Regions from separate parts of the Homo sapiens genome. Here all the other regions are reported to be linked to region 1. Evidence: microRNA targets listed by miRTarBase, many of them from high-throughput screens and not tested one by one. Region 1 holds a microRNA gene; each other region holds the end of a gene's coding sequence.

Region 1 (5,244 bases):
ATCAAGCACTTTCACATATAAAGCCTCAAAAGAACCAGTGGAAAGAGAATGCTTGGGACCGTTCCTTCCTTCCCCCTCCATTTTATGTGGTGTGGGGTCCTGAGGAAAGGCCTCACCTTCTTAAGTCCACGCTGGATGCTGCAGTTTTTACAGGAAACCACCTTGCAGTCCCAGTGCTCTGAGGCCCCACAGGTGAGACACAGGTCAGGGTCACATTCTCGCACTGCCAGATAGCAAGGACATTGCTTGGTATTGCACTGGGTCTTACAGCGACAGCCAGGGAAACGATTCTGACCTGGGAAGGGAAGACAGGTAAGTCTTAGAAGGGAAATAAGCTAATACTGGGGCTTGTGGTTGACTCAAGGGACAGCAAAGAAGTAAATTTTTTGTGTTCAAGGATGTTTGGCAAAATAAGAGGAAGCTCCCTTCCCAATAATCAAATACACAAGTTTTGTCCATAGAAAACTGAGTGCTTCCCAACATTCATGCCTTCGAGTCAAAAAAGCAGGTGTGGTCAAGCATGGTGGCTCATGCCTGTAATCCTAGCACTTTGGGAGGCCAAGGCAGGAGAATCACCTGAGCCCAGGAGTTCAAAACCAGGCTGGGCAACATAGGGAGATCCTGTCTCCACAAAAAAATTAAAAAAAAAAATAGCCATGTGTGGTGACACCTGCCTGTAGTCCCAGGCTTGATGGATGTAGGGGGATGAATGGCTTGAGCCAGGGAGGTTGAGGCTGCAGTGAGCCATAATTGTGCCACTTCTCTCCAGCCTGAGCAACAGAGCTGAGATCCTGTCTCAAAAAAATTTAAAAAATGAAAAAAAAAGCAGGTATACTAATAAGAAGTGTCCCCTAGAGATTCCCCAACAATCCTCTCCCTCCCACTGAGGTGGAGAGTACCCCAGAGAATATGAAATCAGTGTGTTTCACTGGTAAATTGTCACCATCAAAACAAGTATCATTTTGAGAACAGAATGCATCCGTTCTATGCCATCCTTCTCCACCCACTGCCCAACCCAGCGCAACCACTTCTCTGCTGCGGCTAAGATCACTATCTGCTATGGGTTAGGAGGTATTTCCTCCAGCAAAACCGCCTGGGCACCAAGTTCTGCAAGCTGTGGGGACTGCCATCAAACTGCTCAGCTTTGAGTTGGGAAGGGCATGGTGGGATAAGAAGTAAAAGATAAGTACCCGGATGTCTCTGCTGACATCCAGGCCCCTGTCTTCTACCTGATATTAAAACTCCAGCTATGAAATGAAAATAGACATACACAGAATCACAAACAAAAAATATCTGAATAAAAAATTTTTTAAAACAGTATTCAGAAAAGGGAAACTGGGGCTGTAACTTAAAAAAAAAAAAAAGAGTCCCACATTTCTTTTCTTTTTGAGACAGAGTCTTGCTCTGTTGCCCAGGCTGGAGTGCAGTGGCACAATCTTGGCTCACTGGCAGCCTCTGCCCTCTGGGTTCAAGCAGTTCTTGTGCCTCAGCCTCCCAAGTAGCTGGGACTACAAGCATGTACCACCATGTCTGGCTAATTTTTGTATTCTTAGTAGAGACGGGGTTCACCATGTTGGCCAGGCTGGTCTTGAGTCCTGACCTTAAGTGATCTGCCCGACTTGGCCTTCCAAGTGCTGGGATTATAGGCGTGAGCCACCACACCTGGCCTAATTTTTTTATTTTTAGTAGAGATGAGGTTTCGCCAAGTTGGCCACGCTGGTCTTGAACTCCTGACCTCAAGTGATCCGCCTACCCAAAGTGCTGGGATTACAGGCGTGAGTGACTGCGCCTGCTGCCCCCCACATTTCTTAATTCTCCCCTAGAAGACAAAGTTGGGAAAGTATCTGATTTCTGTGTAATTGCTGCTTTTAGAATCATGAACCTAAACGTTTTCCAGAAACGACTCTCCCAGATCTCATGCACTTATTTCATTTGTAGAATCCCTAAAACACAGCAAAGGGGATATCAGAAGGCCATAAGCAGTAAAGGGCACAGGAATGGGGCAAGCCTAGGGCACACTGGAGCCAACTGTTTTGGTAGACTATACAGAAAACGTAGCACACTTACAGTCTGGGTTGCACTGGCAGAACTTCTCACAGAAATTCTGAGTCATGATGCAGGGGCAGGTGCTGTCACAGGGGCGGTCTGGGTGGTCGCAGGGTTGGTAGTTGTACACTTGTGTGGAAGAGTTATCTAGGAAAGAAAACAGAGGAGGATGCTGCTGTGACCATACTCTCCAGCTGTCTTCCCTCCCAAGTGTCCAGCTGCCCTGATTCAGAGGAGGCTGGTCCTAACAATCTCCTTGGACACACATTTAGCACCTGAAGTGAGAAGACAGGGATGACCGTTGTTCATAAGCTGCAGTGGGGTGATCTGCTTTGTGGGGAGGGTGTGGAGATGGTCTGGGACAACAGGGAAGCTATTCTAAACATTAAATGAGGTCTGGAACCTAGCAAATGGCACACTAGAAAAGTCACATACTGGCCAGGCACAGTGGCTCACGCCTGTAATCCCAGCACTTTGCGAGGCCGAGGCAGGTGGATCATTTGAGGTCAGGAGTTCGAGACCAGCCTGGCCAACATGGTGAAACCCCGTCTCTACTAAAAATACAAAAATTAGCCAGGCATGGTGGTACATGCCTGTAATCCCAGCTACTTGGGAAGCTGAGGCAGGAGAATTGCTTGAACCCGGGAGGCGGAGGTTGCAGTGAGCCAAGATTGTGCCACTGCACTCCAGCCTGGGTGACAGAGCGAGGCTCCATCTCAAAAAAAAGAAAAATCACAGACCACAAGGCCCTTAATGTTACCTCCTAAGAGGTCTTCTCAGTTGCAGTGAGAGGCTCAGCTGTTCTCAGTTGCTGCAGAGAATTCTGCAATCTGCGGAAGTGGCACAGGGTCAACAAGTGCAGCTGGAGGTGGGGTAGGGTGATGACCACAGAGTGAGGCCTCCAGCTGAACTGCTGAAGAATGCCCTGGTAGAACTTACCTTTCTTCAGCTGAATCTTCCTGCAGTGTGCAGCCCACAATCTGAAAAAGACAGGAAGGACAGGTCTCAGTCACGGCCCTAGGGAGCTCTGCAAATGCAGGTAAATGACAACGTGACTTGCTCTGAGGGACTGTGTTTGATGACTGGGGAGTATCTTCCCAAACCCCTCAACAGGACGACTTTGGTACACAGAAGCTAGAGTCCATCCTAAATCCAGCTGGCCTGTGCTACAAGAGTTAAACTTAAACACAACCCCTCCCAAACAAGCAAATAACATAAAAGAACACAACACAGAAATAAAAGAAAGCCCAAGCCTATTGGTCTATTATAAAGCTATTGTTTCTCTCCAAATCTCTCCCTTTGTCTTTGTGGAGGTGGAGATATGGGGGAGTTTCAAGATGGGGAGGTGGGAAGGCCTTTCAGGAATCTTCTCTGAAAGAACTGAAAGGGAGGAGCCACAGGGATTTCCTTCTGTATCTAGAAGTGGTGTCAGCTCCTTCCTCTGATAGGTGATAGTCACTAGGGAACAGGGCCAGGGTGCAGAATTTTTTTAAAAACTTCCAACCTAAGTAAAGGCTATCATGTAACTCAGAAAAACAACACAAACCAAACAAATAAATAAACTCTGATCAGAGTTGAGAAATGGGTAAGGTGGTAACAAAACCAACAAGGAGAAATGGCTTCAGGGTGGAGCCATGAGGCCAGCTCATGTCCTATTGGCCAGAAGCTTAAATAGAAAAACAGACAGTTATGGTCCACAGCACTGGGGGACAAGAAGAGGGCTGATCTAAGGCACAGACCCTCAGGGAGCACTCAGGAGGCTGGCTCTCAGTCATGTGATGCCAAGCTGATGGGCTCACACAGCCTGTGCGGTTGCTAAAGAGGGAGGCAGATGGGAACTCCAAGGGGAGGTCAGAGCACAGGGAACAGCCTGGCTGTAAAACAAAACACTTTGTCCAACCCTTCTTGCCTGTGCTTTCTTTTCTTCTTCTGTGAGGGGTTCATGAGCTCATCTGTTGGCAGCTTCAGGATAAGTGATTCTTTGACTGCAAACTGAAAGACCTGGAAGAGAAATCCAACGGGCCTGTCACTCCTCGAGCAAGGGGGTCAGGTAAGTGGCCCAGCTGGGTGCTGGCCTTGGGAGGGTTCTGAGAAACTCAGGCAGCTGACCAAGCCTCTCATCAGTCAGGGAGAGACAGAGTGCCACTGGAACATTGGGTTACTGGCTCTGAAGTTCATTCCTAATTATTTATCCTGACTCAGGAAAGGAGAAATACTGAGCACAGTAATACCGCCCCTGGTCAGAAGCTGTCACCTACTACTCTTTCTACCAAGCCACGGGTAGAAGAGTGGGCTGACTGTGACCAACAGTATCTTCTTCTTTTTAGGAAGGGCAACGCTGTGCCTTGTGTAACTGAGTGTAAGGCAGGACAGGACAGGACAGGAATGGTTTCAGTGGGCTAAATATTAGCTCCCTCTGTCAGTATAAAGATACCGGAGCCTCAGCCATTTCAATAGGATGTGTTTTTTCTCTTAAAGCACTGGTTTTTAGTTTTTCCTTTTCTTTGTTGGGGCTATTGGCCCTTTGTGGGGGATCTTTGAAAACTGTAACTATTCTCAGGAAAATACAGACAAGAACATTCTTGCATACAAATCCATAGATGGTTACGTTGAGAACCTGTGATCAGGGAAATAGGTATGAGCTCCAAAATGAAAGCAAAGGGCACTTCAGCTCATGGTTCTGTTTTTGTTTGTTTTTTTTTTTTTTTTTTAAGAGAGAGGGTCTCATACTCTTGGCCAGGCTGGAGTGCAGTGGTGCCATCATAGCTCAATGTAGTATAGAACTCCTGGGCTCAAGCCATCTTCCCACCTCAGCCTCCTGAGTACTAGGACTACAGGTACGTGGCTTTTTTTTTTTTTTTTTTTTTGTAGAAATGGGGTCTCACTTTGTTGCCCACACTGGTCCTGAAATCCTGGCTTCAAGCGATCCTCCCACCATGGCTTCCCAAAGCACTGGAATTCTAGGTGTGAGCCACCTTGCCCAGTCCATGGTTCTATTAATTGTTCTCAGTACAGGAAGCATGAAGAAGAGGCCACAGAGTCTCCTCCAGAAGGTAGGAAGCCAAAGCATTGGGGTTCCTTTCCTGTTGGACATGCTGGCCCTGACAGCTGCCTCCTTGTCCCTGTTCTTCAGTCTGTCTTCTCACTGTGGTCTTTTCCTGTCTTTTCCTGGGCCAATCACTTGAGGTCAGGAGTTTG
Region 2 (5,172 bases), not on the chromosome of region 1:
GTGGTTGGAATAAGGGGCATGGAGTACAGTTCTACAAAGGAAAGGCAGAGGGCTATACCCAGGGAAGTAGGGAAGGGGTAGCGTAGACAAAAAATGGCTGCGCTTGATGCTTGATAGGTGAGCGCCTGGCTATGGAAAGGGAGAGGCCTGGAGGCCAAGGGTCCGGAGTCCCCTCAGTGGGACTGGCTGCAAGTGTGTGGTGGGAAGGGGAGCGTTGAGACAGGGTCTCACTGTCGCCCATGCTGGAGTGTAGTACGATCACAGCTCACTGCAGCTTCAAACTCCTGGGCTCAAGCAGTCCTCCCACCTCTGCCTCCTGAGTAGCTGGGAACTCAGACATGCACCCCCACACCCAGCTACCTTTTTTTTTTTTTTTTTTCTGAGATGGGGTCTCCCTCTGTTGCCCAGATTGGTCTTGAGTTTCTGGCCTCAAGCAGTGCCCTGCCTTGGCCTCCCAAAGTGGTGAGATTATGGTCATGAGCCACTGTGCCTGGCCAAAGGACTGGCTGAGATTTTATCTGAGGGGAAGGTCCTAGGTCCCCCACCGCCTTCTACCCCTTGTCCCTAGGAGGCCCGGGCAGTCCTGACCTTTGCCCTGGACAGCGTGGAACGGAAGCTGCTGATGTCCAGCACCAAGGGGCTCTACTCAGACACTGAGGTACCAGCATGGGGATGAGGGGAAAAGCCAGAACCTTCCTTCCCACTGACATACGGTCTTGTCCCAACTCTGCCCTGGATTCTGAGAGGCTTCAGGAGAGCCTCTTAAATTTCTTCTTGTAAAAAGGGAGTTTTCAAACTTTGTGGACCCAGAAACCTTTGCGGAAATGTTTAAGGGAAGCCCAATTTATAACACAGGCAAAAAGAGGATGAGCTCAGTTTGAAGTCAGAAGAGGGCATGTGATGGTCCCCCAGCTCCCAGCTCAGAGTGGTGAGCCATGGGAATTCCAGGTCTCAGGCTAAGGGGCAGAGCCTGGAAACTCTTGGACATGACTGTCTGCAAAAGCATGTCCAACCTGGACCTCATGAATCTAGGAATACATGGCAGTGAAGACTGGGAGTCTCTTGATTCCATGGCTCTTAGATTATTTGGGCTGAAGGGGACTGTGGCTGTAAAATCCCAAGACCACTCCAATTCTGTGCACTCTCCAGTTCCATAGCTCTGCACAGCTGGGGCCTCCTCCAAGGTGTGAGGATGCCTGATAGGTCTGAGTCCTGTTGCTGTCAGAATCTGATCCTGAAGTCCTTCTCCCTCTTTTTATTTCTCCTGATCTCTAAGAAACAGTTCATGAAATGGGAAATAATCCCTTACCACTTGCCTCACTTGGGGGCAGGGGAGTGATGGGAGGTTAAGGGAGTCAGGTGGGGTCAGCAGAACCTCCTGGGTCAGCCAAGTCGTGTGTGCATGAAGGGCTCGGCCCCCAGCACCGACCAGTCTCTCCCCCGCAGCTCCAGCAGTGCCTGGCTGCGGCCCAGGCCGCTTCGCAACACGTCTTCCGTTTCTACCGGGAATCGCTGCAGAGGCGTTACTCCAAGAGCTGAGGCAAGCTGGGGCAAGGGGCCGCTCCCATTGCCTCCACCCACTCACCCCCTACAGCCTGAAGCAAACCAGCAGCCCAGCCTTGCCTCTCTGACCCATGGGCTCCTTGAGCCTGCAGCTCTGTAACCACAGGGCTCCTGTGGGGAGGCCTTGGCCTGTGACAGCCCCCAGGCCTGGGGGCACAGATCCCCCCAGCAAGGATAACATTCAAAGGAGCTCACATTTATGGAATGGATGAATCAATAAATTAATTCACTTTAACAAATGTCTGTTGAGCACCCATCGTGTGCAGGCCCTGCTAGTGAGATCCCAGAGGAGCAGGGAGGTAAACTGGAATTTGTCAGATGGTAGTAAATCTATGAAAAAGTAAAAAGCAGGGAACAGGAGTTTGGGAGAGTCCCTTTATGGAGGGCAAATTGAGTACATCAGGCATCAGTGCCTTCACAGAGCAGGGTACCTCAGAGGGGACCCTGAAAGAGGAAAGGGAGTGAGCTCTTGGATAATGTGGGGAAGGAGCCCCCAGGGGCTGGGGACCAGCTTGGTGAACAGGGTGGCCAAAGCCAGCGAGCTAGAGCAGGAGAGCAGATGGGGCTGGGGGAAACGGGCAAGCATGCAGGTGGGGCCTTGTAGGCCATGGGGAGGAAACTCTAAATACCCACCCACCAACCCTGTGAGATGGGGCTGTTGTTATAGTCCCTGTCTTGTTTTGTTTTGTTTTGTTTTGTTTTCTTTTGTTTTGAGACGGAATCTCGCTCTGTTGCCCAGGCTGGAGTGCAATGGGGTGATGCAACCTCCGCCTCCTGGGTTCCAATGATTCTCCTGCCTCAGCCTCCTGAGTAGCTGGGACTACAGGCACATGCCACCACACCCAGCTAATTTTTGTATTTTTAGTAGAGACGGGATTTCTCCATGTTGGTCAGGCTGGTCTCTTAACTCCTGACCTCAGGTGATCCGCCCACCTCTGCCTCCCAAAGTGCTGGGATTACAGGCGTGAGCCACCGCACCTGGCCTAATTGTTGTATTTTTAGTAGAGATGCGGTTTCACCATGTTGGCCAGGCTGGTCTGGAAATCCTGACCTCAGGTGATTCGCCTGCCTTGGCCACCCAAAGTGCTGGAATTACAGACTTGAGCCACTGTGCCCAGCCTAATTTTTGTATTTTTAGTAGAGATGGGGCAAAACCCTACCTGCAGTTGGAGGCAGTCCCATCCAAACCAAATGGCCTGCAATAGGGAAAGGGATGCATCCTTAAGGAAACATGGAGGTGTTGGCACCTGGACAGGGAAAACACATCTGTCACAAGCACTTAGCAGAGGCACATAGGAAGTGCTCACTAAGCACACTAAGAGGGGCTAGACATTATCAAGCAATAAAGACCAGGCTTGGTGGCTCACGCCTGTAATCCCAGCACTTTGGGAGGCTGAGGTGGGTGGATCACCTGACGTCAGGAGTTCGAGACCAACCTGACCAACATGGTGAAAACCTGTCTCTACTAAAAATACAAAAATCAGCCAGGCGCAGTGCTGCGCACCTGAAATCCCAGCTACTCAGGAGGCTGAGGCAGGAGAATCTCTTGAACCTGGAAGGCAGAGGCTGCAGTGAGTTGAGATTGCACCATTGCACTCCAGCCTGGCAACAGAGCGAGACTCCATCTCAAAAAAAAAAAAAAAAATACAAAAAATTAGCCAGGCATTGTGGCACACGCCTGTGGTCCCAGCTCCTTGGGAGGCTGAGGTGGGAGGATCACTTGAGCCTGGAAGGTCGAGGCTGCAGTGAACCAAGATCGGGCCACTGCACTCCAGTCTGGGTTGACAGAGGGAGATCCTATCTCAAAAAAAAGAAAAGAAAAGAAAAAAAAGCTCAGAGGGAGACAGCAACAGCAGACAGTCATTTCCACATATGATGCATTTAATCCTCACTACAGCCTGAGGTGTGCAGAAAGTCCCATTTTGCAGAGGAGAAAAAGTGAGAAGTCACTTGGGCCAAGCTTACACAGCTAACAGGTAGAGGAGTAAGGACTTGAAACTCAGCTCTCTCCAGTTCTCTGCTAACCACCCATATTGGGATGAGAACATCCTGCTGTTTAGAAACCACCAGGCATGGTCGCTCATGCCTGTAATCTCAGCTCTTTGGGAGACCGAGGCGGGAAGATCAGTTGAGCCCAGGAGTTTCAGACCAGCCTGGGCAATATAGTGATACCTTGTCTTTACAAAAAAATTTTTTTAATTAGCTGGGTGTGGTGGCAGGTGCCCGTAGTCCCGGCTACTTGGGAGGCTCCTGGGCTCAATCAGGATGATTGCTTGAGCCCAGGAGTTCAAGGCTGCAGTGAGCCATGATTGTGCCACAGCACTCCAGCATGGGCAACAGGGAGACCATCTCTCAAAAAACAAAAAAAACCCGAAAATCCTCTTCCCCCTTTTCCAGCTCAGGTCTCAGGGAGCAAGCACCCTGGGGATGCCCACCACAGCCCGTCACCCTGACCAGTCAGTCCCCTGTTGGTCTCAAGCACCCCCACCCCCTTCCATCCTCCCACACACGCGAACAGACTCTGGTTTGGCTGCAAGGGTGTCTGGTGTTTAATCTCAGGTTGCTGCCGCCCGAAGAGCGGTGGCCAGGAAGGGGAAGGGTTCCAGTCCAGCTCGCTCCCGTTTCTAGATGCTCCTGCCGCCGCCGCAGCCTCATCCACCAAGATTCTCCACTCTCTGCCCACAGATTTGCTGGGCTGCCGGCCTCAGGGTTCACAGTGAGGGCTGTAGGGGCAACTAGGGCGGGTCTCGGGAGGCAAGGTAGGCAGCCAGGGTCACCAGGGCAGCCGCATACGTGCACACGCCCAGCCCGACGGCGAGGACCCCCAGCAGGAAGGCACGGCGGGAGGCGGCCCCTGCCCCCTGGATGTCCCCCTTGGCCCAAGCCTTGTTGGTCTGTAGAGGCAGTGGGCAGCAGTGACCCAGGCATCCCCTCAGTCCCAGACCCTTCCCCTGGTCCCTCCCCCACCCAACATACCCATTCATTCATTCATGCATGTATTCCAAAAGCAGATACGTAGCACCTACTATAGGTCAGGCACTGGGGATGCTGAGTGGTTAATAAAAACATTAAAATGGTAAAAAATAATAATAATAATAAATTTTAAAAAATAAATAAAAACATTAAAATGGTATATGCCACTATTCTAACTCATTTGATTCTCACATTGACCCAGAGGTAGCAATTATTCCCACTTTACAGATGAGGAAAGTGAGGCACAGGGAAGTTAAGTGACTTGCCCAAAATCTTGCAGAGAGCTGGGCACCGTGGCTCACGCCTGTAATCCCAGCACTTTGGGAGGCCAAGATGGGAGGATCACTTGAGGTCAGGAGTTCGAGACCAGCGTGGCCAACGTGGTGAAACCCCGTCTTTATTAAAAATTCAAAAATTAGCCAGGCATGGTAGCGCGCGCCTCTAATCCCAGCTACTCAGGAGGCTGGGGCAGGAGAATCACTTGAACCCAAGAGGCAGAGATTGCAGTGAGCCGAGATTGTACCACTGCACTCCAGCCTGGGCGACAAAGTGAGACTCAAAAAAAATCTTGCAGAGAGTGGCAGACTCAGGATTTGAGTTCAGGTTCTCTGGGCTACCTTCCACCTTCCCGCCTCA
Region 3 (5,244 bases), not on the chromosome of region 1:
GCCTTGGCTCATGCTACACGGGGAGAGCAGGGCAGGGTGGGGTGGTTCCCAGTGAAGGTGGCAGGACTCAGCAAGTGTGGGCCTGTGGAGCCAGCCAAGAGCTCACACGCCACTGATGGCCCCTCATCATCCCCAAGACTGAGGCTGCTGCTCTCTGTGACTTGGCACAGCCTCCAGGCATGGGGTTCCTAACTCTACCTGCCTGCATTCTTGCCCTATTTGTGGCTGTGACAGGCAGGGCAGGGCTGAGGGACACCAGGTGAACGAGGGCCCCTGCTCTCTTTCAGAACCAACACTATCATCCTGGTAGATGCGGACGGCCACGTGACCTTCACTGAGCGTAGCATGATGGACAAGGACCTCTCCCACTGGGAGACCAGAACCTATGAGTTCACACTGCAGAGCTAACCCCACCTCTGGGCCTGGCCAGTGGGCTCCTGGGGGGCCCTGCCTTGAGGGGCACTGTGGACAGGAAACCTTCCTTTGCCATACTGCATTGCACTGCCCGTGGCTTGGCCAGCATCCCCCGGATCAGGGCCCTGTGGTTTGCGTGTTACCCATCTGTGTCCCCATGCCCAGTTCAGGGTCTGCCTTTATGCCAGTGAGGAGCAGCAGAGTCTGATACTAGGTCTAGGACCGGCCGAGGTATACCATGAACATGTGGATACACCTGAGCCCACTCTTGCACATGTACACAGGCACTCACATGGCACACACATACACTCCTGCGTGTGCACAAGCACACACATGCAAGCCATATACATGGACACCGACACAGGCACATGTACGTGCACAGGTGTGCTACACATGTGCACACATGCACAGTTGCACAGACACACACACACAGGTGCACACACACGATGCCGAACAAGGCAGAAGGGCGACTCTCACCTCTCATGTGCTTCTGGCCAGTAGGTCTTTGTTCTGGTCCAACGACAGGAGTAGGCTTGTATTTAAAAGCGGCCCCTCCTCTCCTGTGGCCACAGAACACAGGCGTGCTTGGACTCTTGACAAGCAGACCTGCTCCTGCAGAGGAGACAGCCACATTTGGAATTGGGCACCGAGAAGACCTGAGAAAAACCCACTCTCTCTTTTTTTTTTTTTTGAGACGGAGTCTTGCTCTGTCACCCAGGCTGGAGTGCAGTGGCACGATCTCGGCTCACTGCAACCTCCGCCTCCCAAGTTCAAGCAATTCTCCTGCCCCAGCCTCCTGATTAGCTGGGATTACAGGCGTGTGCCACCATGCCCAGCTAATTTTTGTGTTTTTAGTAGAGACGGGGTTTCACCATGTTGGTCAGGCTGGTCTTGAACTCCTGACGTGGTGATCCACCTGCCTCGGCCTCCCAAAGTGCTGGGATTACAGGCGTGAGCCACCACGCCTGGCCGAAAAACCCACTCTCATAACAGAAGTGCAGACTCATTGCTAGATTCAGTGCCCTTGAGTGTGCCAGAGGTCCTCTGTGTTTGAGACAATCCTGTGTGTGCCAGGAGGCTCCGTGTGCACCAGGGGCTCTCAGAATCCCGCTTACCCAGCTGGAGACCATGCCTCTGGCAGCCCCATCTCAGCCAGCCCTGCTCTCTCCCTCTTCCCTCCAGGTGAGGCAAACTTCATAGGAATCTGTACCTGAATGTGAGCTCCTGATAATAAAACTCTGAGGCTTTGGTGAGCGCATTTCGAGGCCTTTCCCTTGTATGCAGGGTGCCAGTGGGAGCTGCTATGTCTCCTGTGCAGCCAGACACCCTGGACGAGGCCCTTCCCACCTCCCCCTTTCCTCACGGCTTCTTCAGCACCACATGTGGATGCCTGTGGGTCAGTCCATCTGTCCATGGGCAGGGGCCGCTGTGAGAGACCCCATGCGCGTGGGATGTGGTAGATGCTGATTATGGGGCCAGCCACCCATACAGGTCTATCAGGTCGCAATGGAGGCCCCACTGGAGCGGGAGGCAGGCTGGCCTGGACTTCTGTTGGATGATGGGGGCCAGGGGATGGTAGGAGGGGCAGGAGAGCAGGTCTGCATCTGTCTCAGCCCCAGGAGCTCCTGGTTTGGGGCCAGCTCTAAGGAGCTTCATCCCTGAGCCTGGCCGAGTATAAGGGGGTCCCGGATATCCAATGCTGAGACCTAGACTTTTCTAAGCCTCTGCACCCAACCCCTAACTTGGCCTTTTCAGACCCATGAGAGTGCAGGGTGGGTGTGGACCTGCGCCAGGGCTTCCCAGCCTGATTGTGACATGATGTGAGTCCACCTAGGGAGGAGCAGGGGCCTCCCCGTCTCTTCCCCTTCTTGCCCAGACCACTTTGCTGGGCTCAGAGCCTTCCATGGCTCACTTTGAACTCAGAAGAGTTTCCCAGCTGCGACCCAGGCTGCACCCCCAGGCCTGAGGAGAAACTGAGGCCCCACATCCCATACGTGTCCTCTGAGTCAGGACAACAGGCTCCCGGCTGGGGGCACTGCCCTTGCTGCCAACACATTCACCTGCCCCAGTGGCTACCATGTCCTGTGCCGGTGACCAGTGCCAGTCCCCAACCTGGATGGTGCCCTGCCCTCATGAAGAGCCCCCCGGATGTTCACCTCTGCCCAGAGACCCGGCCTGCCCAGGAAGAGCAGTCTCTGCTCTTGTGTGGGTCCCTCTGCCCCCACCCTGCCCAGGGCTCCCCAGCAGCCTGAGGCCCCTAAGGAAGAACAGCCCTCAATGGTGATTCTATTGGTGTTATGAGTTGTGTCCCCAAAGAGATATATCAGTGTCCTGACCCACAGTACCTCAGAATGTGACTGCATTTGGAGATAGGGTTCTTCCAGGGGTAACCAAGGTAGAATGAGGTCGTTAGTGTGGGCCCTAATCCAATATGACGGCTATCCTTATAAAAAGAGGAACATTTAGGCTGGATACAGTGGCTCATGCCTATAATCCCAGCACCTTGGGAGGCTGAGGCAGGAGGACTGCTTGAGCTCAGGAGTTCAAGACCAGCCTGGGGCAACATGTCGAAACGCTGTGTCTACCAAAAAAAAAAAAAAAAAATACAAAAATTAGCTGGCCATTGTGACTCACACCTGTAGTGCGAGGCTGAGGTGGGAGAATCGCTTGAACCCAGGAGGCAGAGGTTGCAGTGAGCCAAGATTGCACTACTGCACTCTGCCTGGGCAACAGAGGGAGACTCTGTCTCAAAAAAACAAAAAAGGAAGATTTGGGCTGGGCGCAGCGGCTCACATTGTAATCCCAGCCCTTTGGGAGGCCAAAGCTGGAGGACTGCTTGAGCCCAGATTAGCCTGGGCAACATAGCAAGACCCCATCTCTAAAGAAAAATGAAAATTAAAAAATTAGCAGGGCATGGTGGTACACACCTGTAGTCCCAGCTACTTGGGAGGCTGAGGTAGGAGGATCACTTGAGCTCAGGAGGTGGAGGCTGCAGTGAGCCGTGATTGCACCACTGCACTTCAGCCTGGATGATGGAGAAAAACCCTGTCTCTTAAAAAAAAAAAAAAAGGAAAAAGAAAGATTTGGACACGGACGGATACGCGCACAGGAAGAACACCGTGTAAAGACTGGAATTCTGCTCCACGAGCCAAGGCATCACCAGAAGCTGGGAGAGGGGCCTGCTTCAGAGCCTCTCTTAGAGCCTTCAGAGGGAGCAGACCTGCTGTCACTCTGATCATGGACTTCCAGCATCCAGAGCTGTGTGACAATAAATGTCTGTTATCTTAAGTGGTTCAATTTGTGATGCTTTTTTTTTTTTTTTTTTGGAGACAGGGTCTCACTCCATTGCCCAGACTGGAGTGCAGTGGCAAGATCACAGCTCACTGCAGCCTCCACCTCCTGAGGTCAGGCAATCTTCCCACCTAGTCCCCTGAGTAGATAGGACTACAGGTGCATACGACCACGTCCAGCTAATTTTTTGTATTTTTTGTAGAGACGGGGTTTTACCATGTTGCCTGAACTGGTCCCAAACTCCTGGGCTCACATGATCCTCCCACCTTGGCCTCCCATAGTGCTGGGATTACAGGTGTGAGCTACTGAGCCCAGACTGTGGTGCTTTTTTTTTTTTTTTTTTTTTTTGAGACGGAGTCTCACTCTGTCACCCAGGCTGGAGTATGGTGGCACAGTCTTGGCTCACTGCAACCTCCACCTCCCGGGTTCAAGCAATTCTCCTGCCTCAGCCTCCTGAGTAGCTGGGACTACAGGCACCTGCCACCACGTCCAGCTAATTTTTTGTATTTTTAGTAGAGACGGGGTTTCACTGTGTTAGCCAGGATGGTCTTGATCTCCTGACCTTGTGATCCGCCCGCCTCGGCCTCCCAAAGTGCTGGGATTACAGGCGTGAGCCACCGCTCCCGGCCGACTGTGGTGCTTTTTTAAGGCGGCCCTAACAGACTAACACAGTAGTGATCTTCACTTTACAGATGAAGGAACTGCGGCTTGGGGAGATACCATAACGGCCCCCCGGTTCCGAGACAGGTGGAGAGGCAGAACCATGGGCCAGGACAGAATAGGATGAGTACAAGGTGGCATCTCTGGGGGTGCCTGCCCCACAGATCCATGGTCTTCCCATGCTGGTGTCCCCACAATGTCTGGCACTGCTCCCCGCTTCACCTTACTTGCCCAGGCCTACCCCCATACCCTCAGCTCACAGCTACACACTCTGCACAGCTCCCACCCCAGGGTCTTTGTGCTCACAGTTCCCCTGCAGATACCCAAACCACACTCTTCCCCCAGTTCCTGCAGGTCTTTACTGAAGTCTCGGGCAGGCAACTCATTTAAAGTTTCAGTTTAGCCCAGCACGGTGGCACACACCTGTAATCCCAGCTACTTAGGAGGCTGAGGTGTGAGCGTCGCTTGAGCCCAGGAGTTTGAGGCTGTAGTAAGCCATGATTGCACGACTGCACTCCAGCGTGTGCGACACAGCGAGCCCCCATCTTGAAAGAAAGAAAAAAGAAATTAAAAAGGAGGCTGGGCACTTTGGCTCACACCTGTAATCCCAGCACTTTGAGAGGCCAAGGTGGGCAGATCACTTGAGTTCGAGACCAGCCTGACCAGCATGGTGAAACCCCATCTCTACTAAATATACAAAAATTAGCTGGACATGGTGGCGGATGCCTGTAATCCCAGCTATTCGGGAGGCTAAGGCAGGAGAATTGCTTGAACCTGGGATGCGGAGGTTGCAGTGAGCTGAGATCGTACCACTGCACCCCAGCCTGGGTAACAGAGCTAGATTGTATCTCAAAAAAAAAAAAAAAAAAAAAAAAAGGA

What was found. Region 1 holds the annotated microRNA hsa-miR-6780a-5p (UUGGGAGGGAAGACAGCUGGAGA, at 2,234-2,256, opposite strand). A microRNA usually pairs through its seed, bases 2 to 8, with sites in the 3' UTR of a target mRNA and lowers its output. Matches are read on the target gene's strand: a 7mer-m8 pairs with bases 2 to 8, a 7mer-A1 pairs with bases 2 to 7 and ends in A, and an 8mer does both.
Region 2: the mRNA of TMEM91 is a reported target of hsa-miR-6780a-5p. The part of its 3' UTR that is shown has no 7-base or 8-base seed match.
Region 3: miRTarBase lists TANGO2 as a target of hsa-miR-6780a-5p. Seed matches in the 3' UTR shown: 8mer at 1,175-1,182 and 8mer at 1,340-1,347.

Annotation. Positions count from the first base shown.
Region 1 is chr17:42,705,891-42,711,134 of GRCh38, forward strand. MIR6780A (microRNA 6780a) reads right to left here and starts at 2,261; the gene lies at 2,194-2,261. It overlaps EZH1 (enhancer of zeste 1 polycomb repressive complex 2 subunit), which reads right to left. Exons shown (of 21, transcript NM_001991.5): 13 at 3,956-4,047; 14 at 2,986-3,026; 15 at 2,068-2,193; 16 at 117-295.
Region 2 is chr19:41,383,000-41,388,171 of GRCh38, reverse strand. It overlaps TMEM91 (transmembrane protein 91), which reads right to left. Exons shown (of 4, transcript NM_001098821.2): 4 at 4,089-4,457. The coding sequence ends at 4,299. It overlaps EXOSC5 (exosome component 5), which reads left to right. Exons shown (of 6, transcript NM_020158.4): 5 at 569-658; 6 at 1,447-1,798. The coding sequence ends at 1,539. Among named protein-coding and RNA genes, the nearest start is that of TMEM91, 9.1 kb to the right of the region's middle. RefSeq lists a silencer at 1,645-1,823 and an enhancer at 3,743-4,242.
Region 3 is chr22:20,064,255-20,069,498 of GRCh38, forward strand. TANGO2 (transport and golgi organization 2 homolog) reads left to right here. Exons shown (of 9, transcript NM_152906.7): 9 at 288-2,910. The coding sequence ends at 408. Among named protein-coding and RNA genes, the nearest start is that of DGCR8, 13 kb to the right of the region's middle. RefSeq lists an enhancer at 1,854-2,354.